4 separate regions of the Homo sapiens genome follow, and regions 1, 2 and 4 are each linked to region 3. The links come from fine-mapping of genetic effects on gene expression. A gene starts in region 3. Each other region holds a variant in brackets. All regions are shown on one strand. Distances are from middle to middle.

Region 1 (5,712 bases), 29 kb after region 3:
TTCTCTTTTGGTAGAAAGTCTGACAGGTCGCTTAAACAAGTGGGTTTTCAAAGTCACCTACTGGGCCCTTGGGGAGGAGGTGGTAGGCAAGGGGCTCTGGGAGTCTGGCTCCTGCTTCATTCCCAAAAGATGTGCTTTTCGTAGTACAGCTTATTGAGATAGGATTCACCCCAGGTGTACAGCTCAATGGCTATATTCAGTTATATTCACAGTTACACAGCCCTCACACATTAGCAGATGAGCTTTTATCTGATTTTGTCTGTCTGATCTCTGAAGAAGATTATATTTGAATGGGGAAAAGATTCAAGTTTGAAATTACCGTTACAATCTAACTGTAGTTTAAGAACCTTTTCTAAAGAGACTATGGTTTGCAAGTTCTCTTTAAAATCCCAAAGAGAACCAGGAAATAAACTTGACTTCTAAAACTGATAGGGTAGAAGTTATAGTAGTCATTCATTTTTTTTTTTTTTCCCACAGAAGGGACATTTAGGACCTTATTCAGCTTTTTTAAAAAGTCCTCTTGCACACTTCCAATGTGGTTAGGGGAATTTTGAATAGGCAGGACGAGGCTTCCAGAAGACCCATGGATACAGCTGAAACAGGCTTAGTGGTCCAGGATGAAGGGAGGTCTCAATTAGCAGATGGAGCTAGTCGGTGTAGGAGCAAATCCTTTTGCACACCCAGACCATCCCCCAAGGCATTGGGGGACATGTTGTGATGATTGTTGTTCAGATTAACAATTACAATTAAAGAATACCAAGATCATTTCAGCAGAATGTCCACCAAAAAACCTTGAAGATTTAAAGGTTAAAGGTCACAGCAAGATGAGTCCGTGTGAAGATTTCCCTTATTGTCCAGCACATTGTAAATACCCAATAAACATCCTTTGCGTTTTTCCTTGGGAAGGTCATGTCTGTAAAATATCTCATTCCTTGTTGATGTCAGATAAGGCATTCAGGAACTAGTTTTTGCTTACTAACTTGAAGGGAGCATTCTCGCTTGGGCTTATTTGGGGGCAAAGACTAATCATAGAGCATGCTGTTGTTCTCCAGCTAGAGATGCATGCTTCCCTGCCGGGGGACTGGGCTAATCAGATTATTATCAGTTGACAAGTTTGGTTATTTTCAGTTGACAAATTTAGTTCTCCACCTCTAAACACTCATTTATCACCTCTGCTTTATTCACAGGACATGTTCCCGATTTGAGGTGAAACCATGAAGAGAAAATAGAATACTTAATAATGCTTTTCCGCAACCGCTTCTTGCTGCTGCTGGCCCTGGCTGCGCTGCTGGCCTTTGTGAGCCTCAGCCTGCAGTTCTGTGAGTAGAGCCGGGCCCCGCAGGTCGTGGGAGGGTAGGGGCTTCATAGGAAACAAGGAGGCCCCAAAGGCTTGTTTTATAAATGAATGATGAGGCTGAAGACAACGAAGTCTTTTTATTGTTGGCACTCACAGTGGCCGGTTGCAAGGAGGGATCCTAAACCACCGAGCAGTGTTCTGTGTGCTCTTTTGACTTTTGCATGAATTCCTGAACTGCCTGGTTATTCCCAGATTTTTTGTTCAGATTCACCAGATGGAGACACTGAGTGGCCCTGCTTGACTTCTTATGCTGAACCACACAGAGCAGAGGTGTTTAGCCCTTTGATTGGGTCCTTGCAAGTTGGGTGTCTGTTTAGCCTTCAGTCAGCCGCGGGGCTGGAGTTGTTTCGGGGAGGGTGGGGAGATTAGGTCACCAGTATCAAACCCACCCCCCAGGCAGCAGGGGCTGCATGGGAAATCCCCTGTGACGAGACAGGAGGACTCTGATAAAGCCAGGCCATGGGCCTCACCATGCAGCATCCTCCACTGAGATTCCTAGGCTCAGGCCAGGCCCCAAATCTGTGCACACTACAGCTCACCTAAGAGTGGCTGTTCTCAGACACAGATCTGGCCCCAGGACCTCCTTAGTGGCAACACCTCAGTGGTGGCCCATGGTCTTCTGAGAGGCCCCTTGCCCTCCTGTGGCCCCTCTCTGCTGCTTCTGTGCTCAGATCCTGGTGCTCCTTTGCCAAGAGCGTTCTCCTCCTCACCCCCTCTCATTGTTTCCCTTTCAGCCCTTGCCCCTTCTCCTCTAGGACCCTTCCAGGAATACTTAAGGGTTTGGTGCTTCTTTTATATACATCAGGATGCCCTGAATCCTTGAACCTGTCTCCCTCCCTCCTTCCCTTCCTTCCTTCCCCCGTTTTTTTCTTGAAATAGGGTCTTAGTCTGTTGCCCAGGCTGGAGTGCAGTAGCACGATCACAGCTCATTGCAGACTCAACATCCGAGTTTAGGAGTTTAGGTAATCTTCCCACCTCAGCTTCCTGGATAGCTAGGACTGGAGGCGTGCACCACCACACCTAGCTAATTTTTTGTATTTTTATAGCGACAGGGCAGGGTTTCACCATGTTGCCCAGACTGGTCTCAAACTCCTGACCTCAAGTGAGAACATAGGTGTTACATAAGCATAAACCTGTGCATTATGGATTAGTGCCATTTTTTTCAGCACAATAATAAGCAACCAATAAAGCAATTAAATAAATGGAGCAATTAAACTCCATTTCTACAGAAATGGGGAAATTCCAAAGTCACAGTTTACCTAGAAGAAGAAGAGCAGTAAGAACATCAGCCTCCCTAAGTTCTGGTATTACAGGCGTGAGCCACCACGCCCGGCCCCCTCCTTTCACTAACCATGCACTAGTATAATTTTCAGTTCTTGTGTCTTTTCCTTCTACCAGATTGTCTGCTCGTTGAGAGCAGGACCACATCCTGTTTCTCTCTGTATCCCAGGAACCAGCACTGCCTAGCACGTAGTAATATTTTGTAAATGTCTGCTGAATGCATGAATCCATGCCTGCTCTAAAAAGCAGATGGAACCTTATTTTCTTTCCTTCTGTTGCTGTGTATTTGAAGCTGAGAAAACATCTGTGTGATGCCAGGAATTGTGTTGTTGCTGTCACCTGCCTTCTCTCCGTTTAACCACCTCATCCTGATGGGTGGGAGACAAGCAGTTGGCACCCACACCACCCAGGACAGCTGTGTGAGGAGGGGCATTTCTGTTGCAGTTTGAATGATGGAAAGAAGGGCAGGTGGCTCGGTAAGTGGGATGTTATGAGTACACAGAGGAACATGGGGAAGGCTTGGCTCTAGGAGGAGG[T/G]GGTTTCAAGAGAGGAGACTTTGAGGAAGTTTCTCTGATTCACTTCCAATTGTGACATATTTCCATGTACATGCATATGACAGCCTATTTCTAATAGTAAAAAGAATTTAAAATACTCGTTTTATCCTTCCAGAATTGGAAAAGAGGTCAAAAGAAGGTGGGCATCAGAAGTTTAAAAATATTCCAGATGGCAAATGAATTGTAAAATCTGAATCCTTTCCAAAAAGTGTGGTAAGATATTCAGTAGTTTAATTGTTTATAAATTTTCATTAAAAATTTTCCATCCTTTGGTTGGAGAGGTAGGATGTTACAGTCAACCCTGATTTTATTTTGAGAGGCTGACAGGTTCTGAGACATGAATGTGTGTTACTTGTGTTTGTGGCATTTCTCTTGCATGAGCTGGTTTCCACGTCACTGAATTGGCCTGTGTGTTTTGCTTATATAACTCTTCTGAAAGTACCTTCTGTTTTAGGAAAGCCAATTTTCAGCCATACTTTTTTAAGGAAAATTTTGCAGGGTAAATTAGCCTGTCTGGGTCTGAGCTCTTTATTCTTGGATACGTTGGAGATCGGAAAGATATTAAGATATGGACGTTCTTACTGCTCTTCTTTTAGGTAAACTGTAACTTTGGAATTTCCCCATTTCTGTAGAAGTGAGTTTAATTGCTCCATTTATTTAATTGCTTTATTGGTTGCTTATTATTATACTGTAAGAAACAGCACTAATTCATAACGCACAGGTTTCGCTTATATACCACTTATGTTCTCATTCTTATCCTAAAATATATGGACTTTTTTCTTTACCATTTCTTTTTACTTATTTTTGAATACCAAATTAGCATATATAATTACTTTAAGTAACATATTTGAGGCAACTAAGTATAACTCGGTTTTCTCATGCTTTAAGTAAAGAATATAGCTTTGTTATCTGAAATGATCGTATATCTTATTTGGTCTTATTGGTAGTTTTCTTTTCCTGATGTTTTGAATGTGAAGAAGAAATAGCCCAGGTTACGATTCAAAAATCAGATTGCTTAAATAAGTATGTCTTCCTCTGGATACAGAAAGTATGTAGTGAACCTACATATATTTATTAAGTGCTTATGTGTGTTTGACGTTTTTCTACACTGTGGAAGTGGAGGTAGTAAGGAAATACAGAAAAGATTAAGATACTGTTCACAGTTTCTCAAAATATGTTCATCTTAAATGGTGCTAATGACTTGCTATATGCTAATTGTCTTTAATAAAAATAAGTCTATGTTTTCAAGTCTTTAATGTTTTGTGTTTGGAAGGTGAAACATTCTGAAATTCCTGATGTTTGAATTGTAGAAGGGAACAGGCAAGGCATAGATATTTTTGGTTATTGTAGTTAAAATACATACAAGTGGAAAAATAACTTCAAATTAAAGGACTCCTTTAGTGCAGCAAGGAAAGACTGTCAGGATGTGAAGACTTAGGAATCATGAGTTATGTTTCCACTTTTTGTGCTCATTTGTAATCATTCACTTCCCTCCTTGGCCCTTGCATTTTCTTAATGCTGATTTTATGCTCATTTCTCCATGTTCTGACCACCATTCCCAAAATGGTGTTGTGACAGGAGCACGCAGGCTCTAGAATCATAATTTGAATGTCAGCTTCCCTGCTAAGTGGCTGTGTGTCCTATTCCTTCTTCTGTAAAATAGAGTTAATTATTGCTGTTTTGCAAGGTTGCTGTGAGAACGGAGATACGGGAAAACCCTTGGCTCATGGAAGCATAGCCAACATAAACCTTTTAAGCAAACCAGCGCAGAGTTCCGTCATAGTGCACCATCATCAGAAACCAGGGCTCCTGGTGTTCCAGAAGTTGCCAGAGTTTATGTTACTTCAGCCACTTGGTGGGGAAAGCTTTTGAAATAGATCACGCATGCATTTGTTTTTAATCAGAGTGCGTTGGCCATGATGGGGTTAATTTATACTGAGCACATGGCACCCATATCTGGGGTTTCCCTCTTGGTCAGGGCCCCGATTGGCCAGAGCAGAGTCGAAGGAAATGCTGAAGGTGAACTGGAGATTCAGATTCCCAGTGGGAAAAGAGGAAAAGAGGAGGGCTAACCTGCAAAAATGAGAGTGAGGGTTGCTGTCAATATCTGAAGGGCCCTTTCTGCAAGAGGAGGTGAACATGGAGACACATTTCAGTTAAGCATATGGTAGAACTTCCTAAAAGTCAGTGCCATGCAGAGGTGGAATGGATGGTGTGTTCTCCGTCACTGGAGTCTGCAAACTCTGGAGGGCTGCTCTTTGAAGAGTAAAGTATTGGACAGGTCATTGAGTCTGATCCCATTTAAAGTCTCTTTAAACTCTAGGTTTTATGAATTTTATCTTTTCTCATTGATCCAGTGCCATGAGTATGTGACACTTTGTTCTTTAGCAAATGTTCTTTAGTTTCCACTGTGTGTTAGGCCCCGGGCTGAGAGTTTAATCCCTCATGGGCCCCAGGGAGCTCTTTGTCCAGTGGAGAAGAATCACAAGCCGACACCCTGGAATACCAGGTGCTGTGTGC
Region 2 (5,712 bases), 41 kb after region 3:
TCAGTACAGGTTAGAGACAGGGCGGGCATTTAAGATAATTTAGTGGGTTGAGGAGCACTAAGGGAATTGTGGGAACTGACAGAGCGCGTCATTATTCCTTGGCAGACCAGTGAAGGAGAGAGAATTCAAGAACCTTTTGGTTTATTTGCGGGGAGAAATTGGAGAAATTAGGTGGCAGGACTGGGGGTGTTTTAGCTTATGAGGAGACGCTATCTCAGATAAGCTGAATGTATTTAAGGGAGCCAGAAAAGCTGCTAAAATTGGAGTGGCCAAGAGGAGAAGGGAGATTGGCTGGTTGTGCTTTTGTGAAGGGGTGGACGCAGGGGTTTGATATCCCTTCCAGATCCCAAGTTGAAGGGAGCGCCTTTTAAGAGCCTGCAGGAAACAGGAATAATCACATCCAGGGGATGGATGTAGAAAATAGCATTCATTCATTCATTCATTTATAAGATGGAGTCTCACTCTGTCACCCAGGCTGGAATGCAGTAGTGTGATCAGGGCTCACTGCAGCCCCGAACTCCTGAGCTCAAGCGATCCTCCTGCCTCAGTCCCCTGAGTAGCTGGAACTCTAGGCATGTGCCACCATATCCTGCTCACTTTTTAAACATTGAAAATAGTATTTCTTGATTCCTTACCAGAATCCATTCACAGGTGGTATCTCAACATCATCATTACCACCCTGATCTGTAGGTATCATCACCTTCATTTGACAGATGAAGGAAATGAGGCACAGAGAGGCAGGGATACTTGCCCCAGGTCACACAGCTAGGAGGTAACAGAGCCAGGACATGAATTCACATCTTTGTAATACTATAGCTCATTTGCAGCCCCCAGCCCCAGGCTACCTCCCTGCATTCAGAACCATGGTAGCAGGGGCAACTGAGGACAGATGTCAGTGGAGTTCCAAGGAAAAAGTGACTGTAGTCCCCTAAGGAAGTGACTAGCCCAGTGTTGAAGTCCCAAAAAGGGCAAGGCAGACCCTGGAGCTAGGAAGGTAAACAGATAGTGGAGCTGGACCTTGGCCCCAAGAGGTTCTTTGCTGGTGTAGTCAGTGGGGTGACTTGTGTGGCAGCTGATCCCAGAGCAATGGAGACAGAGCTGAGCCAACACTTTAGCCTCATCATGCTCACATTTCCCGGGAAACTCTGGGTCCCTGATACCCAACTGTAATCTGCCAGGTATCTGTGTAATCAGAAGAAGGCTGACAGCCAAATCACACAAGCATGGGGATGGCAGGAGGGAGGGGTTTGGAAGCCATCTGACTCCCACTGCAGAAGTGTCTTCCACATGGGACAGCCTGTCTTTCCTGGAAAGGTCCCTTTATTAGCACAGCTGCCTAGAGTCAGGTCCTCATCCCTGGGCTAGTTAGCAAGGCGGAGACATGGTCCTGGAGGAGCAGCATGACAGCCCCCACCGGGCCATGGGGTTGGCATGAGAAGAGGAGCTGCTCCCAAAGGAGGATGGGTCTGTCGCCACAGAAGGAAGTGGGGAGAGATGAGCTGACCCAGGGTTGGGGCCCTTCATTGTGCTCCATTAAAGTCAGTTTCAAGGCACCTGCAAGGAGCTTGCATACAGCAGTTTCCTAAGGCAAGAAGAAGGCCACATATGCAGGTAGATTTCTGTCCTTGGCCCTATCCCAGGGCCTTGGTATAGGGAGGTGACCTGGATATCAGGGAGGTTGGCTTGACACCCTAGGGGAAAGAAACTGGTGTGTCCTTGTGCAAGTCAGAGTAACTCCCAGATAATGAGGTGGCAGCAGATACTCGGTTATAACTTTATCTGCTGCCCCTATGGTTGTTGAGTTTCAGGGATAACTAAGGTGCCCTGAGGTTCAAAGGCTAGACAGGGGTTTGTGGCCTAGCAACCTGTGCTGTTATGATCTGACTCTGACCCTGGCCTTTTCCCTCCTTATTTTCTATTCCATGGGGACCATCAATGGAATAAACAAAAAATCAAAATGAGCAAATCATCATTAGATGAAACATGTCTCTCTAAACAAGTTTCTAGTGTTCGCTACTAACCCAAGTCTAGTTGATTAAGTCGTGTTTTGCTTAAAGCTGTTATTGACCACTCCTGGGCTCTCTAGAGGGACAGAACTAATGGAATATATACGTATATATATATTTATAAAGGGGAGTTTATTAAGTATTAACTCACATGATCACAAGGTCCCACAATAGGCTGTCGGCAGGCTGGGGAGCAAGGAAAGCCAGTCCAAGTTCCAAAACTGAGGAACTTGGATCCGATGTTCAAGGGCAGGGCGCATCCAGCATGGGAGAAAGATGTAGGTTGGGAGGCTAGGCCAGCCTGTCTATTCATATTTTTTCTGCCTGCTTATATTCCAGCTGCATTGGCAGCTTATTAGATTGTGCCCACCCAGATTGAGGGTGGGTCTGCCTTTCCCAGCCCACTGACTCAAATGTAAATCTCCTTTGGCAGCACACTCATAGACACACCAAGGAGCAATACTTTGTGTTCTTCAACCCAATCAAGTGGACACCCAGTATTAACCATCACATCTGGTAACTTCCCAATATTTCCTTTATATCCATGTCTTCACTGCATCGTTTCCATACCTGCACCCCCCAACCAGCAACCAGTGAGTGCAGGGGGCCCCGTGCCTGAGAAGGCTATTTTCTCCTTATGGTCCATGTGCTTTCTCCCCACCTTTTCTTATTTAATGTCTGACTGTCCCCCGCAACTGGATTGTAAACCCCGTGAGGGCAGAGACCTTGTCCATTTTATTCTCTGAAGAATCCCCAGCATGTGCTCCATACATGTTGGATGGCCAGATGGACAAATGCATAAATACCGAGCTTAGTGGGTGAGCAGGTCCGGGCTTACAGGCTTCAGGACCTTAGGTAACTCCCTTGACCTGCCTCTGCCTAAGGTCTACTGTCTGGCTGATGGTTACTCTTCCTAGGTTGAGATCCAAAGCTGGGAAAAGCAGAGAGAGGATCAGTTTGGCTTGCATCCTAGCTATAGCTATGGGAATGTTTACTAGTAATACATACAGAGTCATCCACTGTGCATTCGGGAGATGGGGTGGGGAAGGGTGGTGGGGAGGGAGCCTGCGTGGGATAGCATCTGGTTGTTTTACTCATGATTCTAAGAAATTTGTTGGTTGCTTTTGAGAGGGAGGGTCCCAAGGAGATGCTTTAGAGGTCATGTTCTCTGCCATTTCTTTGAAATTGAGACCTTGTCGGCATCTTTACACATGAGGGTTATAGATGTGTGGACAGGATGAAAGTGATCGTAGATGAGATGAGCAGAGAACACCGCCATAAAAGAGAGGCTTATTTCCAAAGGTAGCTTACGGAAATTTGCCCTCCTACTTGGTAATCACACCACAGAGAAATTGCATGCCCGTTGGTACAGAGTTAATCATCAGTAAAAGATATCTCGTATCCTGTTATTCGTGTTGGTCCTGGTGGCACAGTGGCCCCAGG[A/G]CACTCATTTAGATTCATGGGTTTTCCCACCTACATAATGAAACTCGTTATCCTTCCATCTATTTATCTGCCCACTATTCTTTCTGATGCCCCCACAGCCTCTTTCTCTTGCCCTGTGACATCTGAGCTGCTGTCATCTGCCTGAGGTCAGCAGAGTTTCTAATTGTTCCACAGGACAGCTAGAGGCACGGGGGGCCTGGGCAAAGCCTGCTGGGAGGAGCAGTGTCCTGGAGCAGTGTCTGCCCCCAGCCCCTGGGTCTGTCCCTCAGCTCCCTTTATCTAGGTGATCGGGGCAAGCCTCAAGAGCTGATGTGGTGAGTAGCACAGCACCAGGGCAGAGGCGGCCTGCAGCCCGGGGTCTGCTCCTCCAGGCCCCTTCCCAGCCTTCCTCCTGGAGCCCGGCCTGCACATCGACCCTGGTGAGGCCAACCTGACCAGGCCTTACGGGACCCAAGGCGTATCCTGAGCCAGCTTGCTGACCCCCATCTGCCATGTTTGGCTGTGTTTCACGGCCTCCCCTCTGCTCCTCTCCTCTTCCCCTCCACACAGCCAGCTTCATCAGTTTTTCAGGCCCAGCTAGGTGTCTCCTCTGGGAAGCCTGTTTGGATGCCCCTCACCCCAGACTGGTTCGGCAACCCTCAGTGCTCCACATGAGGAGTCAATGAGATATTTCATCAAAAGCATGGAGCACAGCGTCTGCCCCAGTTCAGCAGGTATTTTTGGAAGACCTATCCTCTGTCAGTCAGCGGGGGATATAAATGTGAAAGACGCACACTCCCAGCCCTCTGGATGTTTGGGATGGCAGGGTGACAAACTGGGACACCCCTGCTTGCATATACTATGCTGTGAGCCATGACGGCAGCAGGAACTGGGTAGGCTCATAGAAGAGGATGTGGGAACTGGGGATTCAGGGCGGGCTTCCTGGAGGAGGTGACCCTAGGATCAGTTACAGTGTTGGTCAGATTTCGGGAGCAGAGGGTGAGAGTAGAGTTGCCAGCAAACGGTGGAGCATAGGCGAGAAACATCCTGTGGGGTGGGATGGCTCAGAGCAGCTCAGAACAGTGAGAACCAAGTTGGGATTGGGGTCAAGATGGAGCTGGGGAGACTTCTCCTCACAGCTTCTATGTGTCAGGACCTGTTTTGAATGCCTGGTATTGGGAAGGCCCCTTGTGAACTGATGCTATGTCCTGGTGACTCAGGGAGGTACAAATAGTACAGGGTGATCTCACACTCTGAACTAGTAGACACAGTTGACAGGCCCAGATACCAGAGGAAGCAGCAGATAAAATCTTTCTGGAGAGAAGGTCTCATTCTGATCTTTATCTGTGGTTTTCAAACCACTGCTTCCTTGGGTCATGGGTGGGTCATTTGCACCCAACCACCATGGTTCCCAAATGGCAGCCACAACAGGCCTCACCCCGGGTGCTTATAGATGAACTAGCAAACTGTGGGCACTCTAGGACACCCACTGTCCTCACCTGTGCCCCTCCATTTCTGTGTCACTCATATTATCCTGTCTCCTTAGCTGCTTCTGTCCCTGGCCCAGACTCCAAGGGAGTGTGCCCACAGGCATGGCCAAGGGGCCAGGACTTGGTAGATTTCACAAAAGAGCAGAATCAAGGACTGAGCCAGCCAGAAGGGCCAGGTCACTAAGAGACTGCCTTAGCACTTTTCTATATTTCCGTGCTCTTGTGCTAATCCCCCTGTAGTGAATTCCCTCTGAACACCTGGGCTGTGTTAGCCATCCTAGCACCTTCCAACTACTGGAAAGAAAGTGGCCCTAGGAGCAACCAAAGGGCTAATGTTGGGTGGGTGAATCACCAGTTCTGTATCTCTGTGATTGTTGTTTTGGTAACACAAGTAATGAAGGGAAATACGTTCACTGTAAAAAAAAAAAAAATGCTTACCTAGACAGCATAGAAATACAGAAATATATATTTCTATACATATAGAATACATTAATATGTGCTTACTATAAATACATATGCAGTCATGTACCACATAATGACTTCCATCAACGACAGAACACATATATGACAGTGGTGCCATATTATAATACCATATTTTTACTGTATTCTTTCTAAGTCGAGATATGTTTAGATACACAAGTACTTACCATTGTGTTACAACTGCTTACAACATTCAGTGCGGTAACATGCAGTTCAGGTTTGTAGCCTAGGAGCGGCAGGCTGACCAAATAGCCTAGGTGTGTAGAAAGCTCTACCATCTAGGTTTGTGTAAGTGCACTCTATGATGTTTACAC
Region 3 (5,712 bases):
CTCTAGAATGGAAGGTAGCATAGACATCCTCAGGGAATCGGGAAGGTGAGGTAAAGAAACAGGATGTGAGTCTAGGGAGTGTATGATGCCTGATTCCATGAGGGCCTGAGGCTATCCCTATACCAAGTGTGGACCTAGGGAAGGGGGTGGTACAAAGACACAGATCTCAGATAGGTTAAGGAGGAAGCTGAAAGCAGAAAGGGCCTGTGTCCTATCTCCAGGCTGAGACTCTGCCCCCACAGTATGCCCTGCGCTGTCAAGCAAAGCGCTGGTGTGGCAAATTTTGCAGAGAAATGGCTAGAGATGGTGCCCTGAGTTACCTTTAGTCCCCTTGTGACAGAGAAGGGATCCAAGAGTGCCTACATGCTCCCTGCTGAGGGTGATAGTGTGTCCACGAGTGAACCCACCTGCCATGGAGTCACAGAGGCTGAGAGCACAGCATGGACATGTGGCCCAATCCTGCAAACAAAGCCAGGTCCAAGGCTAGTTGCAATGGCTGGCAGAGAAGCTGATTTTCTGCTAGAACTAGAGCTGTGAGGCTGTGAGCCTGGATCTGCCAGGGTCTCATGTGCGCATGAAAGCGTAGTTCATGTGGAAGACAGCAAAACTGAGACGGGGAGTCCCTGAGACCCTGGGACTAAAGCCAGGCCTGAAGCAGACAGGCTCTTCATGTACACAGCGGATCAACCCTTTGTGATTTAAGTTAGTGTGAATTGGGTTGTCTTTTACAGCAGAAAGCACCTTGACTAACCCATGTAGAGAAGAGGGTGACAGTGTGAGCTAAGCAGTAGAGCCTGCAATCCGTGAGAGGACAATCAGAAGGGGCAGAGGAGACATTGTTGGGCGGGCTGCGGTGGGCTTCTGTGGGGGCCAGGTGGGAGAGTTGGGGGTGATGCCAAAGGGGACAGTGAAAAGATTTTGTGCTCATGGATTGGGAGAGGCTGTCAGTATTCAGGGCAGAAAAAAGGCCCGGGATAGCGCTGCATCGGGGGAATACCAGAGGCGGACAGGCAGCAAAGTCCGGTACTGACGAGCCATTAAGGCACCTGATGAAGAAGGCATGACAGGTGGCTGAGAGAATGGCGAGACCACGGGGATAAATGGAGTTGGGAGCTTGGAAGAGGTAAAATTTAGTGCCAGACGTGGTAACTTGAGGAGGAAAGTTCTAAGAAAAAAACCGGAGGGTAGGGGGAAATATGGCTAACATATCTGAGCCAAGTGTGTGGATTTGAGAGCCATCAATCAAGGAGAGAAAGCAGAAGTCAAGGGATGAGATCCTCCCAAAGGTGCACCTCAAAGGTATATAGTAGCAAATTCGAATCCGTATCTATTTTGCCTGAGGCTAGTTGTGCTAGGACACACAGGGTTGCTGTAGACCTCGAGCTGACAGCAAAGACCTCTCTGATAATCGCTGTTGGTCGTTTCATCTCCCACAGAGAAATCTGGTGGAAATCTCCACCAGCTGGAACCTAACATTTGCAATAAATGACCCACAAATACTGATCAAACCAAATACAACCGTTCGCCTATCAGATGTCTAACGGGGCGTTACAGGCAGCCCTCAAGTGCTCTGAGGATCTTCAGCAGCGGCTCCAAGGAAGCCGCGGGCCGGGAGCAGGTGGGAAGGGCGACTGCGCGGGGCCACGACCTCCCCGGGTCTCTGCAGACCGTTGGAGACGGAGCAGCAGCGAGGACTAGAGCAACACAAGGCCGGATGTGTTCTGAGCCGGAAGAGGAGTGTGGGATAGGCCGAAAGGGGTGGGGGGTGGGGGGTGACAGTTTGGGTCTACGTGGCAGCAGGCGCACCCCAGACGCGCGCGCCCACCCGGCGATAGCATCAGCGGCGCCAGGGCAGGCACATGGCCCCAAAGCACCCACACTAGGGCCCGGGCCGGCCAGGGCTGTGTTCCTGGGCCTTGGCGCGCCTCCGCGCAGTCCCTGATCGCAGGTCAGGAGTTGTGAGGCACGCGAGAGCCCTGCGCGTCTGTGGTCGTGGTCCCTGCGCGCTCGGCTTGTCCGTGCCCGTGGCTTTGCACGCCGAGGGCTCTGCAGACTGACCAGTCTCTCCGGGCTGTGCTGGGCCTCCCAGAGGCAGTGTCCTCTCAGCAACCCCGCGCGGTCGCCCCCGCCCAGCCGCACCGCAACACCGCCTCCGGGGCGGAGCTCCAGGGCTCCTGGTGCAGGGCCGGCCGAACTGAGACGGGGCGCGGCGGGGTCGGCAGGGGGCGCTGCCGGGCCCCGCGAGCTCCCCGGTGGCGGGTGCGCGCCGCCCTCGCCTCCCCTCGCGCCGGGAGGAGCTGGCGGCGAGCGCCGAGCCGGGCGCGCAGCGACGGAGCTGGGGCCGGCCTGGGACCATGGGCGGTGAGTGCGGCGCGGGCCTGGGCCGGGGCGGTTGCCGTTGGGGCCGAGCAGCGCAGAGGTTCTAGGCGGGTGGGCGTCCAGGGTCCGAGGTTGGGAGACTGAGGGGGTCCCCCTAACTCGCCAGTGGGAGAGGGGCGGGAAGGCTGGGGGCGCTTCGAAGCGTCGGGTCCGAATCCCGCGACTAAGCCTCCTCCTTTATCCCCGCGCTCGCCCCTGAGCCTAGGACTTGCGCCCTCTTTCCTGCCACTCCCCCCGTGCGCCCGGTGTCCCAGCCCCGGCGCCCGCCCCATAGCCCCCTTCTCCCAGAGCTGGCGCCGTCTCACGCCCGCTGCGAACCCCCGGCTCTGTCTCCAAGCCCTCGCCCCCCGCAGCCCCGCACTCTCCCGCGGAGCCCGCCTCCACCTCGCCCCCGCCCTTCCAGCCCTCTCCCGCACGGCCCCCGCACTCCCGCCGCTGGATTCCAGCCGAGATTCAAGCTCCCGGGATCCCCCTTCCCGGGCGGTCCTGAGCCGGCTAGTCTCCAGGTAAGGAGGCGGCCGCAACTTCGCGGCCTTTCCCGGAGACGGGGCTGGCTCCTCTTGGCAGCCACCTGCAGCCTGACGCCTCCGGGAGTCCCGGGCCTGGCCACGGGGCCGCCCGAGCGCAGGTTAACATTCCTGGATGCGCAGGTTAGGACCGTGTGGTGTAGACCCACGACGTTGCTTTTGCTGGTGAACTTGCCTATGTCCTGATCTTTTAAATAAGCTGGGTTTGTCACACACACACACACAGAGAGAGAGAGAATGGATTTGCTTAGGGTAGGTTGCCTGCTTTGCAGCCGCAGCTGCCTTTTAAATTGTACCTGTGGATGGTAAAGGATTCACGGTGCAGGACGTGGAGCCATATTTTCCCGCTTCGGCTGTGAGTTCAGCGATTGCGAGGGGGCTCTGTAGTGAGTGAGGTTATCACCGCCTGGCTAGCCAGTGTCTTTGTGGAAAGGCAAGGATCCTTTGTAAGCATTCAACAAGTAAAATCAGGAGAGATGGGGAATCAGATCGAGCTGTGAATGGGGAAGTGTAGGGGGGTGGATGGGGGATCGGAGAGTGCTCCACAAATGGAGCCGTTTGTTGATATTTGCAGAAGGCCCGTGGGTGTGAAGCTGGCAGTGCGGAGCCCACCCTTTCAAACGGGATGCGACTGCGGTCGGGCTTGGCAGTAACTTACCCTCCTCAGAGGTGTTGGTGCCCAATCGGGACATCTGTGGGAAGGGGATTTATAGCAGATGGATCAAAAGGCCTCGGGCGCGGTGGCTCACGCCTGTAATCCCAGCACTTTGGGAGGCCGAGGCGGGCGGATCACCAGAGGTCGGGAGTTCGAGACTAGCCTGACCAACATAAAAACCCCGTCTCTACTAAAAATACAAAATTAGCCAGGCGTGGTGGTGCATACCTGTAATCCCAGCTACTCAGGAGGCTGAGACAGGAGAATCGCTTGCACCTGGGAGGCAGAGGTTGCAGTGAGCTGAGATTGCGCCATTGCACTCCAGCTTGGGCAATAAGAGCAAAACCCTGTCAAAAAAAAAAAAAAAAAAAAAACCCTCGTGGTCCCTGGAGAGAGGTGAAGATGCACGGGACAGCCTGAAAGCCAGTGTATGAATCTGCCCCATCCCTTCTCCTGGCTTTCATTAAGTCTTGGATTAAATTAATTGCTTATCTCAGAGAAAGGATGTGTAGGGGGAACTTCTCTGTTAGGGATTGGCTCCTGGCCAGCCCATCCTCACTGATGCCTTGGGAGGCTGCGTTTGGGCACCAGGAACAGCGTGGGCCACCTGGCCTTTGGAGCACAGCACTCCGAGTGTTTGTGGAACTGCAGTATCTGTAACTCTTTTTTCTATTGATCAGCTTGAATAGTTAGCTCAATATTACTTCACTATTGATTAGATAAGTAGCCCAAGGACATACTGGGGCTCAGTAGGGTCTCTCTGTCCAGAAATTCCCGTGGGCTTCTCCTTGGCCCTCCCTACACCGCTCTGTGATGAGTCGCTGTCAGATGCCCCACTGTGCAGGAGCATCTTCAGGGATGGGTGGAAGGAACCACCTCTGTGGCCCCAGGTCCCTGCCTGGTCCCCCCTGTCTACCACATAGGGGTACTCAGTGTTTGTGAGGAAAAAAAATGGATGCCCCGGTGAATTAGTCTGAGTTCACAACCAATGTTTTCTACACTTTGCTACACTGTTCAAAATGTTACCCTTAAATTCAACAGTTTTTTTTTTTTAATGTGTCATATCACCAGAGACAAACTCATTTTTGTGTGTGTTTGGAGCAGTGAGTGCAATCTACGGATCAGTCTCTGATGGTGGGTCGTTAACCTCAGTGGGGACTCCAAGATTTCCATGAAGAAAATCAGTTGTCTTCATTCAAGAATTGGGGTAGGTGGTGGTGGGCGCCCTTGGAAGCTACTAAGTTTGTCTGCTGAGGGTTGAGTCCACCATAGCTTAACCTATAGTGCCCAGAGCTGTAGCCCCAGTCCCCTTTAACATTTCCTATCCCTGCCCACTGACGGAGGAAGCTCCCAGGGAGACAGGGTACCACTTGCAGAGCCCCACTGGCCACTTCAGATTGCACCATCCCCACTCCAGTGGGTGTTGCTTCCTGTGGCGAGCTGGGAGTGCCTCTTCTTGCACATTTCTGGCACTGTGGCTTGCAGCTCTATTGGTGGGAGGGAGGTTGGTGTTTTGGGCCAGTGCTTTGGTCTCTTGGAGGTGGCTATAACCCACTGGCAGATGGGGCAAGGTCCAGCTCTTGTGCCTCTGTCAAAGGCCACCCCCAGGCAGTACAGCCAAATGCTGAGGGGGTGGGAACACCTCATGTCCCCCTTTTTTTGTGGGGGAATCTGGAAAGGGCTAAAATTGAGACTGCCACTTGGCTGTGGGAGCCTGCACTGCCCCTGGCTGTCACGAACTTATCTTTCTTACCCAGATTGTCTCTGTCTTCAGGTCTGGCTCAGAATTCCTGCAGCTGGTGAAAATCTGTTTTCTAGAAGAGGTTTAATTAATGCCTGCAGTCTGTGAGTAAGAGAAAGGGAGGAGAGGGAGAAAGAGACATACTACTATCTAGAGGTGGGTGGGAGAAAGGATAGGAGAATGTTCAAGGTCCTGAAAATTCATAGGGGGAGATTTTGGCCCCAGAACCTGTCCCTGGACAAGGTTCCTGGTTGGTGGATAAGGAAGTGTGCCCACATTCCAGTGTAGGGGTTACCAGTTAGGAGCAAAGTCACTGAGATAGGAAAAATGACCCCATGGGAATCTGAAATCCATTTGCTGGGCCCATCATTCTGGTTTTGAGAAGGCCTTGAAAGCCAGCTGAGACTTGG
Region 4 (5,712 bases), 55 kb after region 3:
TAGTACACTAGTCTCATCCACACTAGCCTTTAGTTTTAATACAGTCATCCATAGAGGATTGGTTCCAGGATCCTCCTTGGATACCAGAATCTGAGATGCTCAAGTCCCTTATGTAAAATGGTGTTGTATTTACACAGAACCTGCGCACATTCTCCCATGTACTTTACATCATCTCTAGATTACTTATAACGCCAAACACAATGTAAATGCTGTGTAAATAGTTGTTATTTGTATTATTTTTATTGTTGTATTGTTATTTCTTATTGGGTTTTTTCCAAGTATTTTTGGATCCACAGTTGAATCTTCCAATGCAGAATCTGAAGAGATGGAGGGCCGACTATATTTTCATCAAAATCTGAATATTTTAACAAACCGTATGGGAACTTATCGTATTCATTTCTACAGATTATGGAAGGCTTGCTATTTTCATGAAACATCCAAGGATGGGACACTTCACAGTTGAATTCACTCACATATATTTTTAGAGCATCTGCTATGTGCTAAGCACCCTCTGGGCTCCAGGGATGGAGCAGTGGACCAGGCAGACAAGGCCTGGGTAGTCAGATCCAGGTCCAGGACTCGAGTTACCTGGTCTGCTTTCCACTAAAAAGATACAGCCATTTGTTGTCAAATGTTTTTTTTCTTTTTCTTTTTCTTTTTTTTTTTTTTTTTTTTGAGACAGGGTATCTCTTTGTCACCCAGGCTAGAGTACAGTAGTACAATCACAGCTCACTGCAGCCTCGACCTCCTGGACTCATGTGATCCTCCTGCTTTAGCCTCCTGAGTGGCTGAGACTATAGGCCTGCGCCACCATGCCTGGCTAGTTTTTGTATTTTTTGTAGAGACATGGTCTCACTATGTTGGCCAGTCTCAAACTCCTGGCCCCAAGCAGTCCTCCCACCTCGGCCTCCCAAAATGCTGGGATTACAGGCATGAGCCACCATGCCCGGCCTGTTAGCTATTCTTTAAATGAAGTTTTTCTTCCACAAATCTTCATCTTTGCATGCCAAAAACAAACAACACAACAACAACAACAAAAAAAAACAAAAATAAAAAACATTGGAATGAATGCAGTTAGATATCATTAAGCAGTCAGATGCCCTGAAAACCTGGGTCACCTCAGCAAACACTTCCAGTCATGAAATTCCATTTCTAAAATTGGCAGCAAAGCTTTCTCAGATCCTCAAAAAAAGCTCCAACCTGAAATAATGGCCTGGTGCAGAACATTTGACTCCTGTTGATGGATAGCCTTTGTTTATGTGGATTACTCTTGGCAGCCTCATTGTCAGTCTGGACATTTTATTTCCCAGTTTGCAAACATTTATGTGCTTTAGCCTCAGGCAAAATAACGTACCCTGTTTTTGTGGAAAGGCATAACTCCCTTTAGCTATCCAGGGTGATTTATTAGACTATATTACATGTCTGGATTAGTATTCTCTAATTTAAAAACGTATTTTTAAAAGATGGATTTTTTTTTTAGCTTTATGTTGTTGATAGATAATAAACCCATTTTGGCAGCCATTTTTAAAGCACTTTCAAAGTTAACTGGGCCTTCAGACAGCAGGGGTTTGCCATTAGAACAGTTTATCTTTGCTTCTTTTCATGCTGATTCTTATAGAGTTTAGGCATGAACTACTCTATCTGTCCACTTCTCTTCAGCTGGAAAATGTATATACATTCATAGGCTACTTCATTATTCAAAGAAAAGATGTTTATATTCATAGGTCATTTCATTATTCAGGGTAATTGTATATTAGTGACTAGAAAGATTTACCACATATACTTTGTGGCAGAAATATAGATACTCTCAGATCTCATATATAAACTTTTTTTGACATTTATTATTACCCTATATTAAATGAGAGGTTGTATGTCCAAAACGTGGAGTGGATTGTAAAGAGGTATAGAGATCCTGGTTATCTTATTCAGTTAACAATTTTCCTAAAGGGGGATTTTTCAGAGGTCAGAAAAATTAAGGATTATGGGTGACCTTGATAAAGGATAGGGTAGATTTTCTAGGAGGAAGGGATAGCTCGTGGGAAGTGGTGGAAGTGTTGAAGAATGAGGTGCGTTGTGTGTTGGAGGAAAGAAGGCCTTTGGCTTGGCGTGGCCAGAGCACAGTATTAGGGTAGAGAGGGCCAGTGAGTACCAGGGCGAGGCCAGAATAGAGGGACAGG[CTGTG/C]TGTGGCCCCTTCCAGAAGGTGGTGATAGGGAAGGGCAGTGACTGGTCAGAGTTACCTTTTAAATCAATCCTTCTGGTGGTGGAGAAGGCAAGATTATTAGAGGGGCATGCTTAATCAGCAAGAAGACCAATAAAGAGCCCATTGCCAGCCAGACAAAAGCTGCCTGAGGCCAGAACCTAGGTAGTAGCTGTGAGGATGAAGGAGAAGGGGATGGAGAAGCACCAGGAGAAAGAATCTGCAAGACATGGGGAGCAGACAGCATGTGCAGGGGCAGGGAATGGAGAGAGTGGGACGATGCCCAGCCTAGGCGTGACTGCTGGGTGGGTGTTGGCGGCCTCCCGGAGAGCGAGCCCGGAAGGCAGCACAGGTTGGGGAGCCGGAAGATAGACGGCGAAGCTGAATCCCACAGTACTGAGTTCAGCAGAGGTTAGGAACTCTGGCCAACCTCACAGAGGGGATTTCATGTGTCAGTGTCAGTGGTCGAGAAATAATGAAATTGGAACTGAAAAGTGATTGAGCCGGTACCTGTTACTGTGGGTGCAAAAGGCTGCGATACACGTGGGATTTGGCTCGCTGAAGCTGGAAACTGTTTGGATTCTTGTGGAGCACTCTGACCTCTAACTCTCTCTATCATCTCTCTAGGAAACCGTATCACCCAAAACTGGAAGCTTTCATTAGTCACATGTCAAAAGGATCCGGAGCCTCTTTCGAAAGCCCCTTGAACTCCTTGCCTCTTTACCCAAATCACCCATTGTGTGAGATGGGAGAGCTCACACAGACAGGTATGTGTGACCCCCATGCGCTCAGGGGTTCCCCCACCCGCTCTTCTGCTTGCATACCTTCCGAGCAGTTCTCCTGGGCGGGGTGCTGTGCAGCTCAGAGGGGGTAAGCAAGGACTGGCTCTGCAAGGAGCTCGGTCACCAGGGCCTCTAAATAAACATCAGAGTTCTCAAAACTAAATAGAACCTTTCTCCTTCTTACAAAAACAATACGTGTTCATGAAAATAATTTAGGAAAGACAAGTAAAAAGAAGAAAAAGTTTAAGCAACCGTAATTCCACCACAGAAATAGACCCTTAAGAGTAACCCTTCTTCCTGTGCTTATGCACACACACACATCTTACTAAACACACTATTTCATAACCCACTTTTCCACTCAACAACACATTTTGTTAATATTTCCCTATGAATAACTGTTTATCCACTACATCATTTATGATAGCGCCATATTCTTTCACTCTGGATGGGCAATTGATCATTTATTTAACTAATCTCATGTTCTCAGATATTTCTAACAAAACTTCTAATAGGTTTTCATGTACAAGATCTCAGGGAGGAAAATGCATGGCACATTTCTACTGCATGTGGAGTTTGTTTGGCTGAGCTGAGTTCTCACAGAAGCACAGCTTTCCCTCCGCAGCCCTAGTCAGACCATGTGCAGTCAGTTCACCATCAGGGTAGGTTGGTGAGTTAACTGTGGAGTCACCTTTGCTGGGAATAGAGGAACAGGTGGTCCTTCAAGAGGTTTCAGTTTTCTGATTCTTCAATCTGGAACCTCAGAGGACCTTTGCCTGGTCACCAGCCTTTATGGGTGAATTGGGAAGACCCATTGGCCATGTTCTGTCTTCATCTTGCATCAGCATCTTAGGACTTCAGCAGGGATGGAGGGAAGGTCTCCATCCTATAGTAGGCCCTCTTAGGTTTTGCCATTATTATTGGGGAAATGATATTGGATAGACAGAGTGGAACAAGCTGAAGCCTCTGGAGGACTAGCCGTGGATAAGGAGTTGTGTCAAAAGCCTTTGGCAATTAGTTCCACATGCATTACTTTAGAACGAGGGTTTTCATCCTAGCAGATCCAACACCCCCTTTGATTACACAATTAACTATTTTGCAATCTCCCTCAACTATCATGAAGTGAAATTTAAATATAATGTAACCAGCCAGGCATGGTGCCTCATGCCTGTAATCCCAGCACTTTGGGAGGCTGAGGCAGGATAATCGTTTGAGCCTGAGGGTTCGAGAGCAGTCTGAGCAACATAGTGGAACCCCATCTCTACAAACAATTTTTTAAAATTAGCCAAGTGTGGTGGCATGTGCCTGTAGTCCCAGCTACTCAGGTGGCTGAGGCGGGAGGACCACTTGAGCCCGGGAGGTCAAGGCTGCAGTGAACCATGATCATGCCACTGCACTCCAGCCTGAGTGACAAAGTGAGGCCCTGTCTCAATGAATGAATGAATGAATGAATGTAATCTTTCTATGCAGTTAATTACTTAAAAGTTATACCAGGGTCCCCAGCGATAACAAATGAAAAGAAACTAATTTACTACCTAATTATATGTGTCTCTGTATAAATGCTTAAGAACAGCTACACTAGAAAATAGAATGAAATCTTCAAATGCTTGTACCTAAATGTGACTCTGACAACTACAAATGCAGATGATTGATGGATGCTGTATTGTTGACTCTTAATACCACATGTCAGGACATGGTTTTTCTGAAGTTCTGATCAAAACAAAATATAGATGTTCCTTAGTTTATATTGTATTTCTGGAAAATTCAGTGAACATTAATATTATACAAAAATGGTTTTGTGTTCTAGACACAAAAACAGAATTAGATTCTACAGTCTAAAGTATTCAAATATGTTTTGCACGTGATGGAATGTCTCATGCTGCATTCAAAAGTTGTGTGGGACAGAGACACGTGTCCCTTCTGGAGACCAGCCCCCCAGCCCCTACCCACTAGGTGCCAGGAATGCCTTTCCCCATACTATTGTGATAACTCCACCCCCAAGCCCTCTCTGAAGGCAGTAGCACTCTTGCTGAGAACTGCTGCTTAGATTCTCTGGTTAAAAATAACAGAAAACACCTCAAGCAAAAAAAGGAAATTTATTATAAGAATTCAGGAATGACTCACAGACTCTAAGATCAAGAGTGTGACCAGACCTCTAGAGACTGGAACCAGGAATAAAAAAGCTGTCTTGTCCCTGCCTCTCTCTCTAATTTTTTGTTGTGTCTGTCAACAAAATTACAGTCCCAGCCACACACACAGATGAACTTGCAAATCCAAATTCTTGAGAGAGGGAGAATCCTTGAGGTCCTAGGGGTTAGCATCCATCAGCCCTGGCTAACAGGTCAGGGTGACTGTGCAGAGAACAGGAGGTGAGGGCGCCAGTCTCTGGATCCAGGAGCTGCTACCTGAGAAGAGGCTGGGGGGTTGGCCCTCACACACCTAATCATTCATTCAGATCTTTCTTCTCAATTCATCTATCATCATCATCGTTTCTAAATTAGTGTTACTCTAGAAATCATTTTTGTAATACTGTCTGCTCCTGTTTCCTCATTCTCTTTTAATGGTCATTTTTATTTCTATTTTAAATATCATGAAAAATGCATGGCTGTTATAATCATCTTTTGTCCCTGGTGCACTTACGGCACCCTACAGTAACTATGTAAGGTAAGATTGCTCATGAGTGCCTACCCTGTTGAAGATGCTTTGGCAGCTGCTGAGTGTGAGAGGGTAGCAGGA

What was found.
Region 1: its variant is fine-mapped to the expression of PXYLP1 in whole blood (INTERVAL, PIP 0.99).
Region 2: its variant is fine-mapped to the expression of PXYLP1 in tibial artery (GTEx, PIP 0.90).
Region 4: its variant is fine-mapped to the expression of PXYLP1 in whole blood (TOPMed, PIP above 0.99).

The regions. Positions count from the first base shown.
Region 1 is chr3:141,258,936-141,264,647 of GRCh38, forward strand. It overlaps PXYLP1 (2-phosphoxylose phosphatase 1), which reads left to right. Exons shown (of 6, transcript NM_001037172.3): 2 at 1,188-1,319. The coding sequence starts at 1,241. Among named protein-coding and RNA genes, the nearest start is that of PXYLP1, 30 kb to the left of the region's middle. RefSeq lists an enhancer at 861-1,605. The variant T/G (reference allele first, on the strand shown) is at 3,175.
Region 2 is chr3:141,270,462-141,276,173 of GRCh38, forward strand. All of the region lies in intron 2 of PXYLP1 (2-phosphoxylose phosphatase 1), which reads left to right. Among named protein-coding and RNA genes, the nearest start is that of PXYLP1, 41 kb to the left of the region's middle. RefSeq lists an enhancer at 3,365-3,534. The variant A/G (reference allele first, on the strand shown) is at 3,450.
Region 3 is chr3:141,229,551-141,235,262 of GRCh38, forward strand. It overlaps PXYLP1 (2-phosphoxylose phosphatase 1), which reads left to right and starts at 2,275. Exons shown (of 6, transcript NM_001037172.3): 1 at 2,275-2,361. RefSeq lists a silencer at 2,014-2,393.
Region 4 is chr3:141,284,490-141,290,201 of GRCh38, forward strand. PXYLP1 (2-phosphoxylose phosphatase 1) reads left to right here. Exons shown (of 6, transcript NM_001037172.3): 5 at 2,825-2,964. Among named protein-coding and RNA genes, the nearest start is that of PXYLP1, 56 kb to the left of the region's middle. The variant CTGTG/C (reference allele first, on the strand shown) is at 2,178.